Linked DNA regions of Homo sapiens. The protein of the gene in region 3 purifies or fractionates together with the protein of the main gene of each other region. This does not show direct contact. Each region holds a gene or a part of one and is shown on either strand. Other genes may lie near its edges.

The links.
Region 1: the proteins of C6orf15 (region 3) and NUCB1 purify together in Homo sapiens (affinity purification with mass spectrometry; one large-scale study listed by BioGRID and IntAct). This does not show direct contact.
Region 2: the proteins of C6orf15 (region 3) and PSMG2 purify together in Homo sapiens (affinity purification with mass spectrometry; one large-scale study listed by BioGRID and IntAct). This does not show direct contact.
Region 4: the proteins of C6orf15 (region 3) and MAEA purify together in Homo sapiens (affinity purification with mass spectrometry; one large-scale study listed by BioGRID and IntAct). This does not show direct contact.

What each region holds. Positions count from the first base shown.
Region 1 is NC_000019.10:48,906,712-48,910,590, reverse strand, and holds part of NUCB1 (nucleobindin-1 precursor), read right to left. Parts: intron 1-3,879. UniProt on the Homo sapiens protein: Major calcium-binding protein of the Golgi which may have a role in calcium homeostasis. Acts as a non-receptor guanine nucleotide exchange factor which binds to and activates alpha subunits of guanine nucleotide-binding proteins (G proteins).
Region 2 is NC_000018.10:12,709,442-12,713,320, reverse strand, and holds part of PSMG2 (proteasome assembly chaperone 2), read right to left. Parts: intron 620-3,879; coding exon 561-619; intron 1-560. UniProt on the Homo sapiens protein: Chaperone protein which promotes assembly of the 20S proteasome as part of a heterodimer with PSMG1.
Region 3 is NC_000006.12:31,110,599-31,114,310, forward strand, and holds C6orf15 (uncharacterized protein C6orf15 precursor), read right to left. Parts: upstream 1,978-3,712; 5' UTR 1,958-1,977; coding exon 1,891-1,957; intron 1,694-1,890; coding exon 783-1,693; 3' UTR 625-782; downstream 1-624.
Region 4 is NC_000004.12:1,296,291-1,300,169, reverse strand, and holds part of MAEA (E3 ubiquitin-protein transferase MAEA), read right to left. Parts: intron 2,197-3,879; exon of another isoform or gene 2,055-2,196; intron 1-2,054.

The DNA.
Region 1 (3,879 bases), on a different chromosome or scaffold from region 3:
AGCCCCGAGTAACTGGGACTACAGGTGCATGCCACCACACTCGGCTAATTTTTGTATTTTTAGTAGAAACAGAAACAGGGTTTCACCATGTTGGCCAGGCTGGTCTTGAACTCCTGACCTCAGGTGATCCACCCACCTCGGCCTCCCAAAGTGTTGTGATTACAGGTGTGAGCCACCACGCCCAGCCTCAACCACTCTTTAAAAAAAACAAACAAGGCTGGGTGCGGTGGCTCACGCCTGTAATCCCAGCACTTTGGGAGGCCAAGGGGGGCGGATCACAAGATCAAGAGATTGAGACCATCCTGGCCAACATGGTGAAACCCCATCTCTAATAAAAACATAAAAAATTAGCTGGGCATGGTGGTGCGCACCTGTAGCCCCAGCTACTTGGGAGGCTGAGGCAGGGGAATCACTGGAACCTGGGAGGCGGAGGTTGCAGTGAGCCGAGATCACGCCACTGCACCAGCCTGGTGACAGAGTGAGACTCCGTCTGAAAAATAAATAAATAAAATAAATACATACATACAAACAAAAGAAAAACATCAAAATTTTTGATAAAGCATCAACCAATCTTAGGGGTTAAATTGCACGCTCCTAAGTTTCTATGTTGAAGTCCTAAGCCCCAGTACCTCAGAATGTGACCTGATTTGGAGACTAGGTCTTTACAGAGGGAATCAGGTTAAGATGAGGTCATTACTGTGGGCCCTAATCCAACATGATTGGTGACCTTATAAAAGGCAGAAATTTATGACTGGGCACAGTGGCTCATGCCTGTAATCCCAGCACTTTGGGAGACTGAGGTGGGAGGATCACTTGGGCTCAGGCATTCGAGACCAGCGTGGGCAACATGGTGAAACCCCATCTCTACAAAAAATATAAAAATTAGCTGTGTGCAGTGGTGTGTGCCTGTAGTCCCAGCTGCTCAGGAGGCTAAGGCAGGAGAATCACTTGAGCGTGGGAGGGGGAGGATGCAGTGAGCCGAGATCGCACCACTGCACTCTAGCCTGGAGGATAGAAGTGAAACCCTGTCTCAAAATAATAATAGGCCGGGCGCGGTGGCTCACACCTGTAATCCTAGCACTTTGGGAGGCCAAGGCGGGTGGATCACCTGAGGTCAGGAATTCGAAACCAGCCTGCCCAACATGGCAAAACTCCATCTGTACTAAAAATACAAAATTATCCAGGCGTGGTGGCGCGTGCTTGTAATCCCAGCTACTTAGGAGTCTGAGGCAGGAGAATCGCTTGAACCTGGGAGGCAGAGGTTGCAGTGAGCTGAGATCGCGCCACCGCACTCCAGCCTGGGCAACGAGAGCAAAACTCTGTCTTGGAAAAAAAAAAAAATAATAATAATAATAATTAATAAAAAATAATAATGGAAGGAGAAATTTGGGCCAGGCACACAGAGAGGAAAGATGGTGTGAAAATGCAGTGAGAAGACGGCCATCTGCAAGCCAAGGAGAGGGGCCTGGTACAGATCCTCCCTCATAGCCCCAGAAGGAACCAACCCTGCCAATACTTTCACTTTGGACTCTGACTGCAGGCCATGAGACAGTCAAGTTCTGTTGCTGAAGCACCTGGTCAGTGGTACTTGGTTACAGCGGCCTCAGCAAACAAGTGCAGCCTCCCTCATATGGGAGTTTCCAAGTAGTCAGGAAGGGGTAGGGTTTCCAGGCAGGAAAGGACAGCGCACACGCTGCCAACACACACTTACCGCACGCATGTCTCCCGAGGCTTCTAGGGGCCCAGGCCTGCGCTGTGCAATGCTGGACCCAAAATGAATCAGCCTGGCCCTGGCCTCCAGTGGCCCTTGGTTAGGTGGGGAGAAAGACACACACACACACACACACACACACACACACACACACACACCCCTTGGTCAAGTGGGCAGAAAGACACACACACACACACACACACACACACACACACACACACACACACACACGGGCAGCTAGAATTTGGGAGACCTAGGCTGCAGTGGAGGCAGCTCCGGCCCTGGCTGAGCCCAGAGGAGTGACAGGTGTGCAGGACACAGGTACAAACTGAATCTCAAATTCATTATTTGTGCCAGGGACGTGTGTTGAGCCGCTATTCCAGGCTGACCCAGCGCCGGCCGCTATGGACACAGCAGGAATCAAATGATGACAGAATTCTGACTCTTGGAGGCCAGGCGGGGTGGCTCATGCCTGTAATCTCAGCAATTTGGGAGGCTGAGGCGGGTGGATCACCTGAGGTCAGGAGTTTGAGACCAGCCTGGCCAACATGGTGAAACCCTGTCTCTACTAAAGATACAAAATTAGCCAGGTATGGTGGCGGGCACCTGTAATCCCAGATACTCAGGAGGCTGAGGCAGGAGAATCGCTTGAACCTGGGAGGCAGAGGTTGCAGTGAGCCGAGATCGCGCCACTGCACTCCAGCCTGGGCGACAGAGTGAGACTCTGTCTCAAAAACAACAACAACCAAAAGAGTTCTGCCTCTTGGAGCACCCAGTCTAGAGAGACAGAGAACAGGCGACCAAGGGATGAACAAAGGAATACCAAGGACACAAATAACACAGAGGCTCCTTCACACAGGACAGCCGGGGCGGTGACACCCTGAGGAGGTGACATTCCAGGGGAGATGGAAGGTCCATGGACCAGGCAAAGAGCCCTGAGAAAGAATGTCACGGGAGAGCGGGGCGAACGGACAAAGGTCCCAAGGCTGCACGCCAGCAATTTCTAAAAATGCTGACGCAAGAAGGTCAGGGTGCATACGGGAAGGGCAGGGTTGGGCGGGTGTGGCCAAGGTCCACCCAGGCTCCGAGCAGACAAGAGGAACATGAATGCGGGCCTGAGGGCACTGGGGTGCCGGGGGCAGGCTCTGGGCAGAGGAGGGACGGGAAGAGCCTGGGTGTTGTGGCAGCTGGATACTGGTGCCCTAAAAGATATCCACATCCTGATCCCCGGAACCTGTGAATGCGTGACCTTTCCGGGCTAAGGGGTCCTGGCGGATGGGATTACATTAAAGACCTTAAGATGGGGGCCAAGGCTGGTGGCTCAGGCCTGTAATCCCAGCACTTTGGAAGGCCGAGACAGGAGGATCACTTGAAGTCAGGAGTTCAAGACCAGCCTGGCCAACATGGCAAAATCAAGTATCTACTAAAAATACAAAATTAGCCAGGTGTGGTGGCACACACCTGTAATCCCAGCTACTTGGGAGGCTGAGGCAGGAGAATTGCTTGAACCCAGGAGGCGGAGGTTGCAGTGAGCCGAGATCGCGCCACTGTAGTGCAGCCTGGGAGACAGAGCAAGATTCTGTCTCACCAAAAAAAAAAAAAAAAAAGGCCAGGCGCGGTGGCTCACACCTGTAATCCCAGCACTTTGGGAGGCCGAGGTGGGCGGATCACGAGGTTAGAGATCAAGACCATCCTGGCTAATACAGTGAAATTCCGTCTCTACTAAAAATACAAAAAATTAGCTGGGCATGGTGGCGGGCGCCTGTAGTCCCAGCTACTTGGGAGGCTGAGGCACAAGAATGGCGTGAATCCAGGAGGCGGAGCTTGCAGTGAGCCGAGATTGCACCACTGCACTCCAGCCTGGGTGACAGAGCGAGACTCTGTCTCAAAAAAAAAAAAAGAAAGATATTAGCTGAGCAAGGAAAAACAGTGTGACCTGATAAATCTCCCGATTTTATCGCTGTACTTATGCAAGAGTATCACACTGAAATGTGTAAGGGTGATGAGATGGTGACTGTGGTGAAGTCCCAAACGTGAGTGACAAAGCAAATGGAGCAAATGTTAACTAGAGAAGCCAGGTCAGGGGTGTTTGGGAGTTTTCTGTACTACTCTTACAACTTTTCTAAAAGTTTGAAGTTCTTTCAACTTTTTTTTTTTGAGATGGGATC
Region 2 (3,879 bases), on a different chromosome or scaffold from region 3:
GCGAGCCCCTTTTCCTGGATCACAATTTTGAGTGAGAGGAGAAGCCACTGGAGGGTTTCAAAGAGAGTAGTGATGTGGTGTACGTTTAGAGGATCATCAGTGCTGCTGTTTGTGGGAGGCAGATCAGCAAGTTAGTCAGGGGCATGAAGATGACACTGGTTTGCACTCAATGACAGCAGTGGAGGAGGAAAGAAGTCGGATTCAGAATATTTTATGACATATACATAATTTGATATATACATAGTTTATATGTAGATGCCACCAGCTGAAAGGTAATACAAATGGAATAAACCTCTAATATTAATATGCTTACATTTTTTCACCAATGCTACCCGAACTGAAAATATGTTAACACTCAAGATAAAAGCCCTGCTTCCTTTCTATATAATCATGAAAAGACAGTAACACATCTGAAATATTGTAAGATTATTTCTCTGTAGAATCAGATCTTAACTGTACATATGGTAAAAACAGTAGTAATTTTTGAATCTTAATCCCTAATGTTACTTATTTTCTCATTACACTTTAATAAACAAAAAGGCAAACTACAACATACTAACCTTAATAAAAATGGATCTTAACTGTAGAGCCACCAGCTTTCTTGAAGGCAATGAATACACTATAAAAACAAGAAGAAAATGAAATCATATGACAGTGAAGTTATACAAGTTGAAATTATTATGATAAACAAAAATTGAATTATAATACCTTTTGCATTTAAATGTTTTCAATAATTAAAATACGGAACATATATGACATCTGGTTAAAATAAGACCTTTTAGAAGTACCTTAAAATAAGCCAGTGGGCTTTATTCTATGGAACAGATTCATTTCTGAAAAGTTAACTGTAAGAAAATATAAAAAATTATTTTTCTTTTGACTTTAACTGCAAAACCAGAGAAGTATTCCCCTGAAAATTTCTGGTATTATGACAAATAAAATCATCCTTAAGAAAACTGAACTTTTTGGCTTTTGATATTCTCCCCTCTTTGTCTCCAGAGAACAGCAACACTCATTGGGATTAACAGAAAAAACAGTAAAAGGTAGGAGAATGTTAGCCATGTAATAAAATCCTGAAATAGGTACATGTGTGTTCCTTAGAACTTTTTAAAGGATCTGAAATAACATAAAATGTCATGTGAGTCAATGTGTTTGTATTTTTTACTGGGAAAAGGATCCATAGCTTTCATCAGGTTCTACAAGGGGCACACTCTAGAAATGCTTAAGGCTTCCCTGCCCAACTTCATTTCTAAGAATGAGAAGCAGCTGGGCATGGTGGCTCACGCCTGTAATCCCAGCACCTTGGGAGGCTGAGGCAGGTGGATCACAAGGTCAGGAGATCAAGATCATCCTAGCTAACATGGTGAATGAAACCCCGTCTCTACTAAAAAATAAAAAAATTAGCCAGGCTTGGCGGCGGGCACCTGTAGTCCTAGCTACTCAGGAGGCTGAGGCAGGAGAACGGCGTGAACCCGGGGGGCGGAGCTTGCAGTGAGCAGAGATCGCGCCACTGCACTCCAGCTTGGGCAACAGAACAAGACTCCATCTCAAAAAAAAAAAAAAAAAAAAAGAATGAGAAGCTCCTGAGTCAGGGATAAAATACTCTCTAAGGACACAGGATTACTACTGTGCTAAGGGGTAAGTGTTGGTTACCATAAACAGATTGCAAATAACAGCAAATCCTTTGGTGGATCAGGTCTCTACTGTTACAGGTCTTTCGGAAATTGTCTCCTATGGCTGGCGTGATGTGGTGTGACTGGGGGGTATGCTGAACTCAGCAAATCTAGCAAGCACCAGGTATGTTCAGTCCAAAGGAAGTTTAGGAATTAGGGAAAAGGGTATAAATTTAGGGAAAAGAGACTAAGGCAAAGATTACTCAGCCTCTAACCTATCTGTGACAAACACATGTAGTCCAATTCAACTGACCTAGGTTTGAAAAGAATGTATCTGTAGGGGGTGGACAGGCTAAGCTTTTTAAAATGTAAGCTACCACTTCTTCGGTGATAGCAATACTCTCCTCATCAGCGTATCATACAATTCTTTTTTTTTGAGACAGAGTCTCGCTCTGTCACCCAGGCTGAAGTGCAGTGGTGCGATATCGGCTCACTCCAACTTCTGCCTCCCAGGTTCAAGTGATTCTTGTGTGTCAGCCTCTCAAGTAGCTGGGATTACAGGAGCACACCACCACGCCTGGCTAATTTTTGTTTTTTGTTTGTTTTTTAAGACAGAGTCTTGCTCTATCACCCAGACTGGAGTACAATGGTGTGATCTCGGGTCACTGCAACCTCTACCTCCTGGGTTCAAGCGATTCTCCTGTCTCAGCCTCCTGAGTAGCTGGGATTTCAGATGCACACCGTCACAACGGGTTAATTTTTTGTATTTTAGTAGAGACAGAGTTTCATCATGTTACCCAGGCTGGTCTCGAACTCCTGAGCTCAGGCAATCCACCCGTCTTGGCCTCCCAAAGCGCTAGGATTACTAGCATGGGCCACCGTGCCCGGCCTATGCAATTCTTTTTGTTGTTAGGTTCCTGTTTCCTAGTACTTTTTTCTTCTGATGTGATACATTACGAAAGCAACAACACCTTTTCTGTATTCTGCCCCAAAACATTAACCTTTTATCTAATCAAGCCTTTAGAGCTAACTCCAGTTACAGAAAACACAGGGGCTAGAACAACAAGCCAAGTGACAAGAGGACGTAATCAGACAAATCAGAAGGTGGGACATTGTACAAAACAATACACCTAGTCTTTTCTTCAATAAATCGGTTTGTGATGAAAAAAAAGGGACTGCTCTAGAGTAAAAGAGATTTCAAGGGCACAGCACAACAATCGGATATATGAGGGGTCTTCAAAAAGTTCACAGGAAATGTGTACTTACGAAAACATTTTGCACCAAAATAAACTTGTACTGACTTGCTGTAACACGCCTGAAAAGGATCTGGTTTGAGGCACTAAGAAGGATAAGGCATTAAGTGCCCCTATCACAGCAACATGAATTCTGCTTAAACTGAAGCAAGAACATCAAATTTATGGTGAAGCTTGGGTAGATAAATGGTGAAATCACAGATGCTTTAAAAGGGGCGGGCGTGGTGGCTCACACCTGTAATCCCAGCACTTTGGGAAGCTGAGGCGGGCAGATCATGAGGTCAGCAGATGGAGACCATCCTGGCTAACACAGTGAAACCCCGTCTTACTAAAAATACAAAAAAAGTAGCCGGGCGTGATGGCGGGTGTCTGTAGTCCCAGCTACTTGGGAGGCTGAGGCGGAAGAATGGCGTGAACCCGGGAGGCAGAGCTTGCAGTGAGCCGAGATCGTGCCACCGCACTCCAGACTGGGCGACAGAGCAAGACTCCATCTCAAAAAAAAAAAAAAAAGTTTATGAGGGCTGGGCGTGGTGGCTCATACCTGTAATTCCGGCACTTTGGGAGGCTGAGGCGGGTGAACTGCCTGAGGTCAGGAGTTCAAGACCCACCTGGCCAACATGGTGAAACCCTGTCTCTACTAAAAATACAAAAATTAGGCCAGGCGTGGTGGCTCACGCCTGTAATCCCAGCACTCTGGAAGGCCAAGGTGGTTGGATCACCTGAGGTCAGGAGTTCAACACCAGCCTGACTTGCATGGTGAAACCTCATCTCTACTAAAAATACAAAATATTAGCTGGGCGTGGGGGCGTGGACCTGTAATCCCAACTACTCCAGAGGCTGAGGCAAGAGAATTGCTTGAACCCGGGAGGTGGAGGTTGCAGTGAACCAAAATCGTGGCATTGCACTACAGCCTGGGCAACAAGAGCAAAACTCTCTGTCAAAAAAAAAAAAAAATACAAGAATTAGCTGGGTGTGTGGTGAGTGCCTACAATCCCAGCTTCTTGGGAGGCTGA
Region 3 (3,712 bases):
GGGAATGAAAGCATCAAATGCCACCCCAGGTGGGATTGTTGGCTTCAAGGTTTTTTTCTCCCTTTCCTTTCTCCCTTTTCTCTTTTCCTTTATCGAGGTCTGCTATTTACTCAGCAACTCTTCAAAGTCTGTGGTTCTGTGGGACACAATGTGCTAAATGATGCCTGTAAGGGAGGAGGTCGATGTACCTCCACTTCCAAGAAGCTTGACTTTCCGGGGAAGAAAAGACAAGTGAAGCGTAGACATTGCGACTTTTGGCTTCCTGTTTCTGTGAGTTGCAAGGAATCCTGTCCACCTGGCCCTGGAGCCGCCTTCTGGGACCTCATCCTTGCCCCCTGCTGCAGGTGCCATCTCAATTAGTCCTGCTGTCCCTCCTCCCCCTTTCAGATTCCAGCACAATTCTGGAACAGCTCTCCCACCTGGCCGGGGTGAGACTGAGGCTCCACCCTCAAGCACTTGGGCACTGATCCTTTGTGAAGGATGGGGATAGCAAGACAGCGTCTGCAGGGGCCCCTAGAGGGCCGTGGGGATGGCTAGAAAACAGGAATGAACAGACTCACTTCAGCTTATGCCCAGACTCACTTCAGCTTATGCCCAGAAACAAAGAAACCAAGGAGAAGCAAATTCCATAAGTGCTTTTATTTTATTGGAGATGAGCAGGGGAGGCACTGAAAAGTGGGGATAGTGCTGGAAACATGCTGACAGGGCCTGGATTGAGCCCACACAGCAAGGGGCGGGAGCAGGACTCTAACTCCCAATGTTGGGTTTCCCTCTATCGTGCTCTAGCCCCACTGCAACCTAGGGCTTGGAGGATTAGGGAAGCCAGCTGGGATGTTCCAAGAAGAGCCAGGAGGGCGGAGGACTCCAGGAGGAAATGGGTTATTGATACCTGGGTATAGATGAATATTCCCCCAGCTGCCTCCTGGATACCGATTAATATTCCCCCAGCTGCCTCCTGGATACCGATTAATATTTCCCCAGCTGCCTCCTGGATACCGATTAATATTTCCCCAGCTGGTACCTGGGGGTTGATTATTGATACCCCAGATTCCCTCAGGGTGTGGCATGGGCCTCGTTCCCCAACCAGTCCCAGGGCCTCCACCTCCCCAGGACACACTGGGATTCAGGGTACCCCAGGGGTGATCAGGCAGAACCCTGTGGATGAGAGACCAGGGAGGGCGTTGGGAAAGGATTTTTCCCCCGGCTCCCAGTGAATTAGAACGGGGCAGTCGTCTGGACTCCGAGTCCTGGTGGAGGAGTGAAGCCTTGGGTGAGAGGCCTGTGGCATCGGGAGAAGACTCCCCAGGCAAAGGGCCACTGCCCGGAGCGAGGGCCGCAGCACTGGAGAGGTAAGAGAGTTCTTCAGGCAGCGCTTCCCCCAGGCGGTCCTCAGCCGCAGCAGCCATCATCTGCCAAGGATCCTCAGGGGGCCAGGAATCCATGGCAGGCAGCCCCCACGATGGAGGCCACCTCTGCACTGCAGAACCTCCTGCAGGTGGGAAGCCATCTGATGCAGGCACGCTGAGCTTCAGAGGAACCCTTGCCAAGTCATTAGACCTAGGGTCCAGAGCGGGCTGCGGATGTTCAGAGTTAGAGGGGCCAGTGGAGGAAGGTTGTCCGAGCTGAGGCAAGTTGGTCCCCAAGTTTTGGGAAACTTTCTCCTCCACAACACCGATGCTCCGGGCAAAGAGGCCTGAGGGAAAGGGAAGATAAAGCAACCAGTGGTCTCCAGTCCCCGAGTCCCCAGTTCCCTTTGCTTCCCCTATGCCTATTCTTCCTTTTCCCTCAGGGACCTAAATGTGTACCCTCCTGCCTTTACCCCTTTCCTTAATTCCTGTTTCCTGGGGGACCTCCAGTCCCTCCTGCCCAAGGGCATCACGGCCTCCATACCTGGGAGATGAAGACAGACCAGGAGCAGGCCCAGAGGAGCGCAGCTCCCTGCCACGCGGCCCTGCATCCTGCTCAGCACCCGATCTCCCTCAGCCCCAAGACAGCCAGCCCTTTATCCTGGTAGTGGGGTGGGGGACAGCAGAAACAGGCTGGGCTAGTGGTTGTGAAGACAATAAACCTCCACATTCCACCCTCATTCCTAATGTGGTCTGTGGCAACAGGTGTCACTTGAATGAATGTCCCAGAGGAAGCTGGGTGTCTCCCGCCCTGGCTCCTTTCCTTGACCTCCCTGCCCCTTCTTGGCCCAGGTGTCCTGGCTCACAGCTCATCCCTGGTTGCCAGCCTCCCCAGCCCTGCTTCTCTATACACAAGGACCTCCACCCTGGGGTCCCACTCTCTTAATTGCCTCTCTCAGCAACAGAAACACTTGTTTCTTTTTGGGAGCTGGATTGTTTCCTCCCAGCACCCCTTTCTCATGCATCCTCATATCTCCTTCACCTTGGCCCCAACCTGCAGGAGGTTCTGGGGTGCAGAAGTGGCCCCATCTGAGGAGCTGCTCCTACATGAGACCCTGGATCTAGCTAGGGAAATGGACCTGGATGCCATCCTTATGAGATACTGACTAATTCCTGCTGCTGCAGTGACAAATTACCATGAACCGAATGGCTTACAACAACATGGATTTATTACTTTACAGTTTTGGAGATCAGAAGTCTAAAACAGGTCTCAGTGGATTAAAATAAAGGTGTCAGCAGGGCTGTGATTCTTTCTGGGGGCCTCAGGGGAAAATCCCTTTCCCTGCTTTTTCACCTTCTAGAGGCATCCTGTGTTCTTTGGCTCATGGTCCCCTTCCTCCATCTCCAAAGCCAAAATCAGCCATTTCTTACACTGTATCACTCAGACTTCCTCTTCTGCCTCCCATGTCCACATTAAGGGACCTGGTGACTACACTGGACCCACCTGAATAATCCATGATAATCTCTGTGAAGTCAGCCGAATAGCAACCTTAATCCCATCTGGAACCTTAATTTCCCTTTGCCATGTAACCTAATTCCTACGTTCCAGGGATTAGGATGTGGACATCTTTGATGGTGTTGGGGTTGAAGACATCATTCTGCCTGCTACTGGTGGTCAGATGTGCCATAGAGTATAAGAAACCTTGGGAGAAAGTGGCTATTTCCAAGTAACAGTAGAGGAGAGCCTTTAAATGCTGCTGTCAAATGGCCAGGACTTGATCCTTGTTGAAGCTGGGCGATGAGAATGTAGAGATTCATTAACAGTTTGTTGGCTTTTAAATATGTTTGCAAATTTTATTATAAAAATGCAATGGCTTTGTTCTCTCCATGGCTTCCGGGAGGCCCCAGGAGTAGGCTTCCCTGGCTGCCCAAGGTCTAAACATGAGCTGTTGGCTGATTCTACTGCTGTGTCCTCCCCACCTGCCCCTGCTGGCTTAACCACTGGAGGAGTGAAGAGCTCCTCTCCAGAACTGGCAGTGGATGGAGCCCAGAGGCCTTTTTGGATGACATGCATGAGTTTTACACAAGCTTTTAATTTGGAGCACAGCAGGAGACTCGAGGAAACACCACATCAGAGAGCCTTCTCTCCCTGCAATTCCCATTCATGAAGCATCTGAGGACCTCGATTCCTGCCATTGGCTGCAGATCAGGGGCCAGATGCTGGACCAAGGGTGATTCAATCCCTTTCTGGTCAATGTAATACATTTTTGCTGATTCCAGACTTGGAGTTTCAACAGTTCTAAATTCAGGACCAGACAGCACCACCCTGATAGGAGGGAATGGGTTAAGTGCTACAGTAGGGGTGA
Region 4 (3,879 bases), on a different chromosome or scaffold from region 3:
CTGTCTCTGCTGCTTTGGGTTATGGTGAATGGGATGTGTTCTAACTGGCTGGCGGTGATATAGAGGGTGGCGACTGGGTTTCGTGCACTTACTGTATGCCCCGTTATTGTGCTGACTTTCTCAATGGTTACATTTACTTCTATTTCAATTCTTACTGCTTTAGACAGAATTGCCAAAATAATATTTAATATTATTTTGTTCATTTGTTAATTGGAGAATTTATTTCTTCTCTATCCTTCAAAAGAGCTTATAATCCCAGTGGTCAGAAACAAGCAAAATACCGTTATGTGAGACAGCGGTCACGACTCACGAGGGAAAAGGGCAGAAGTGGGAGATGCTGGGGCTGCAGTTTCAACAGTGGAGTCAGAGAAGCTTCACAAGCTGACAGCTCAGCGAAGATTGAAGGAGGTGAGGACATGGGACCACGGACGTTGGCAAAGATTGAAGGTGAGGACATGGGACCATGGACATCTGTGGAAGGAGCGCTCCAGACAGAGGAAGGTGGCAGTAAAACCCTGGGCTCGGCATGCTGGCCTGGCTGAATGGCGGCAGAAAGGCCACTGGGCCCAGCACCCTACAGGGCAAAGGGCCTGGGAGCCACTGTAACGACCCTGGCCTTCATCCCCAGGTCAGGAAACTCCTAGAACAAAAAGACGACAGGATCTGGCGCTGGGGCAGCCGGGGTGGGCATGAGCAGAGCAGGAGCAGCCAGAAGGCTATTCAATATTCCAGAGAGAGATGCGACTTGAGCCGCAGGGGCAGAGGTGGGAAGAGCAGCAGCAGCTGGGCCTGGGCATGTCCTGACGCCAGGGTGGAGGGGCAGACGGGCTGGGCATGAGCTGTGACAACAGAGGCATCAAGGCCAACCTGAAGGTTCTGGCCTGACCAAGGGAGATGGAGGGGCTGCCCTTCCCGAAGAGAAGGGAGACTGGTAGAATTGGTTTGGGCAGCAGGTGTTAAGATGATAAGCTCAGATCTAAATATGCCAAGGAGCTGGGCATGGTGGCTCACACCTGTTATTCCAACACTTTTGGACGCCCAGGAGGGAGGAATGCTTGAGCCCAAGAGATGGAGACCAGCCTAGACAACGGAGCTAGAACCTATCTCTACAAATAAAAAAATTAGCCAGACACGGAAGCAGGCGCCCGTGGTCCCAGTTACCCGGGAGGCTGAGGCAGGAAGATCACCTGAGCCCAGGAGGTCAAGGCTGAAGTGAGCTGTGATCATGCCACTGCACTCCCGCCTGGGTGCCAGAGTGAGATCCCATCTCTAAAAATAATAATAATTTTAATAATAATAATTTTAATGCCAAAGTGCCTTGCCAAGTGGGTATGTTTTACAGGCTACTGGATACAGGGCTCTGGGGTTGGGAAGATACCTGCCTGGGAGTCATCAGTATACACAGAGGGTCCTATCAGTCCACTAGACCCTGTGAGAGCACCAAGGCAGCGGTGCTCACAGCAACACCCAGGGCCAAGGACTGAGCCCGGGGGGAAACGCGAGGATGGCGCTCTAGGAGCCCGAGGGGGTGAGCTGTGTTCCAGCCCTGTGAGAGGTCGAGATGGGCAGCAAGAATCCATCATGGGTCTCAGCAGTGTCTTGGGGTTACCTGGTGCCCTGACTATAGCACTGTGATGGGGGTAAAACCAGATGAGAAGCAATTCCAGAGACCCCAAGGCAGGGCTGGCTCAGACAGAGGGGACCTGTGGGTCCCGCACACAGTTAACCAGAAGACGGCGCGTGTGCCTCTTCGTGGATAACCAGAAGACGGCGCGTGTGCCTCTTCGTGGATAACCAGAAGACGGCGCGTGTGCCTCTTCGTGGATAACCAGAAGACGGCACATGCCTCTTCAGGTCACAGGGATGGGGCAGGGGGTCTGGTGCATGAACAAAGGCTGGCCTTGGGCGGGGCACAAATGACATATCTCCAGTAAAAGAAAGGAAACAGTGAGCACAAGCAGGCAGGCGACAGACAGGGCCAAGCCGCGGGCAGAGCACAAGGACGGGGCAGGCATGGGGGGCTCATGGAGAAGGAGGGGCATATGGAACAGTACCTGGGGTACAGGGTGCTAAAATGCCTCAAGAAGCATGGCTATGCTGCCAGGCAGTACTCGACACCCACTCCAGGCAGCAACCGGGTTCCTCAGCAGATAGGTGCGGCTTCTGTGGCCAGTGCAGGGGCCTTGCACAGCGGGGTTTCCATGCTGGAATGTTCTAGAACAATGGGAAGCAGAGAAGGGCAGGGGATGGGGCTACATCGCGAGGGGTGGAGGCAAGGGAGAAAGGAAACGCAAGAGGCTGACCACAGCCAGATGAGAGCACAGGCCATGAGACCAAGACATACTCTAGAATGCGGCAAGTGGACAAAAGTGAGATGCGAAGTTTAGGAATTTCCCAGACAGACGGGGGAGAAATTGGTTCGGCCAACAGCCATTGACTGACTCCTGTGCCAGGCACTCGTGGGTGTGACGTGAACGACGACAAAGGACGGCCCGTGCCCTCGCAGAGCAGACGCTCTAAAGGAGACGCCCAACCAAAGCACAGAGAGATGCAGGCGACCGCGTCAGACTGTGACGAGTGCTGCAAAGGAAACCAGGCAGGCAAGGGACAAAGGGCAAAAGGAACCACATCCTAATTTTATTTAGGGCAGCAATGAGCCCACACTCAAGCGCGTGCTCTCTCTCTATATGTATGTATACACACACACATACGCACGTACTTTTTCAGGCTCCTCCAAAGCTAGAAATGGCCAGCCCCGTGCTCTGGGGAATGAGCTGAAGTGTAAACGCTTGGGAGGATGTCCACTAAGGCCCCCACGCAGGGAGCTGGCCACGCAGGGCGGCACTGATTCCCCCTTACCCTCCTCCTGGCCGCGAAGGCCGCAGCCCCAGCAGCCATCGTGGACTCAAGGATAAACGTGAGAAACAGAAATCGAGAAAACCTCCGAGTTCTCGGCTGTCACTGAACAAGTGCCGGGGGACATCGCTGTCAACTGACTTGGGAAGGGTGGCTTAGTAAGGCAGGTCTGGGGCTCGTCTGGGGCCCCAAGGCCGAGATGCGGCATTTGGTTTTGCGCCTGGTATCGTATCTTTGAACTGCCTTCCAGACATGCGAAGAGAGCTCCGGGAGGTGACTACACGGGATGGCCTCAGGGAGAGAGGCCTGGGGAGGGCAGCAGTGTGGGGACAGGAGCTTGGAGACCGTCTGTGAAGCCACACAACCTCTGGAGGGCTGGCTGGTGACATAAAACAAAAGGCCTCCAAGACTAGAGAAGACAGCATAGGCAAGTGAGGACATGCAGCGAGGGGTGGGGAGAGCCCAGAGGATGGTGTCACGGGAGCCGAGTGATGGGAGCGTCTCGAGGCAGTGGGGTCCGCTGTGGACTGACCGCTTTCAGGAGCATCATCCTGTCCTCAAGAGGAACATCTGGGTGGAGTGTTGGGGGGCAAAAATCTGATTTAGGTAAAACAGGAAGAGAGACATGAAGGGGCAGAGACAGGGAGTAGTAGCTGGAGGAGGACGGGGGCAAGGAAGGGGTTTTCACGAGAGGAAGACTCAGAGCCACGTGCACACCAGGGAGCTGCACAGCCAATGGGAAAACCGACCAACAGAGAGAGAACCAAGTGCAGGAGCAGCCACAAGGCAAAGGGCACAGCACAGGTGAGGGGGGCACAGCGCAAGTGAGGGAGGCACAGGCACGGGTGAGGGGGGCACAGGCACGGGTGAGGAACGGCACAGGCATGGGTGAGGGGTACAGGTGAGGAATGGCATGGGTGACGGCTGCACAGGCACAGGTGAGGGGGGCACAGGTGCGGGTGGGGGGGCACAGGTGAGGGTAGCATAGGTGAGGTGCAGATGTAGGTGGGGGGCGCACGTGAA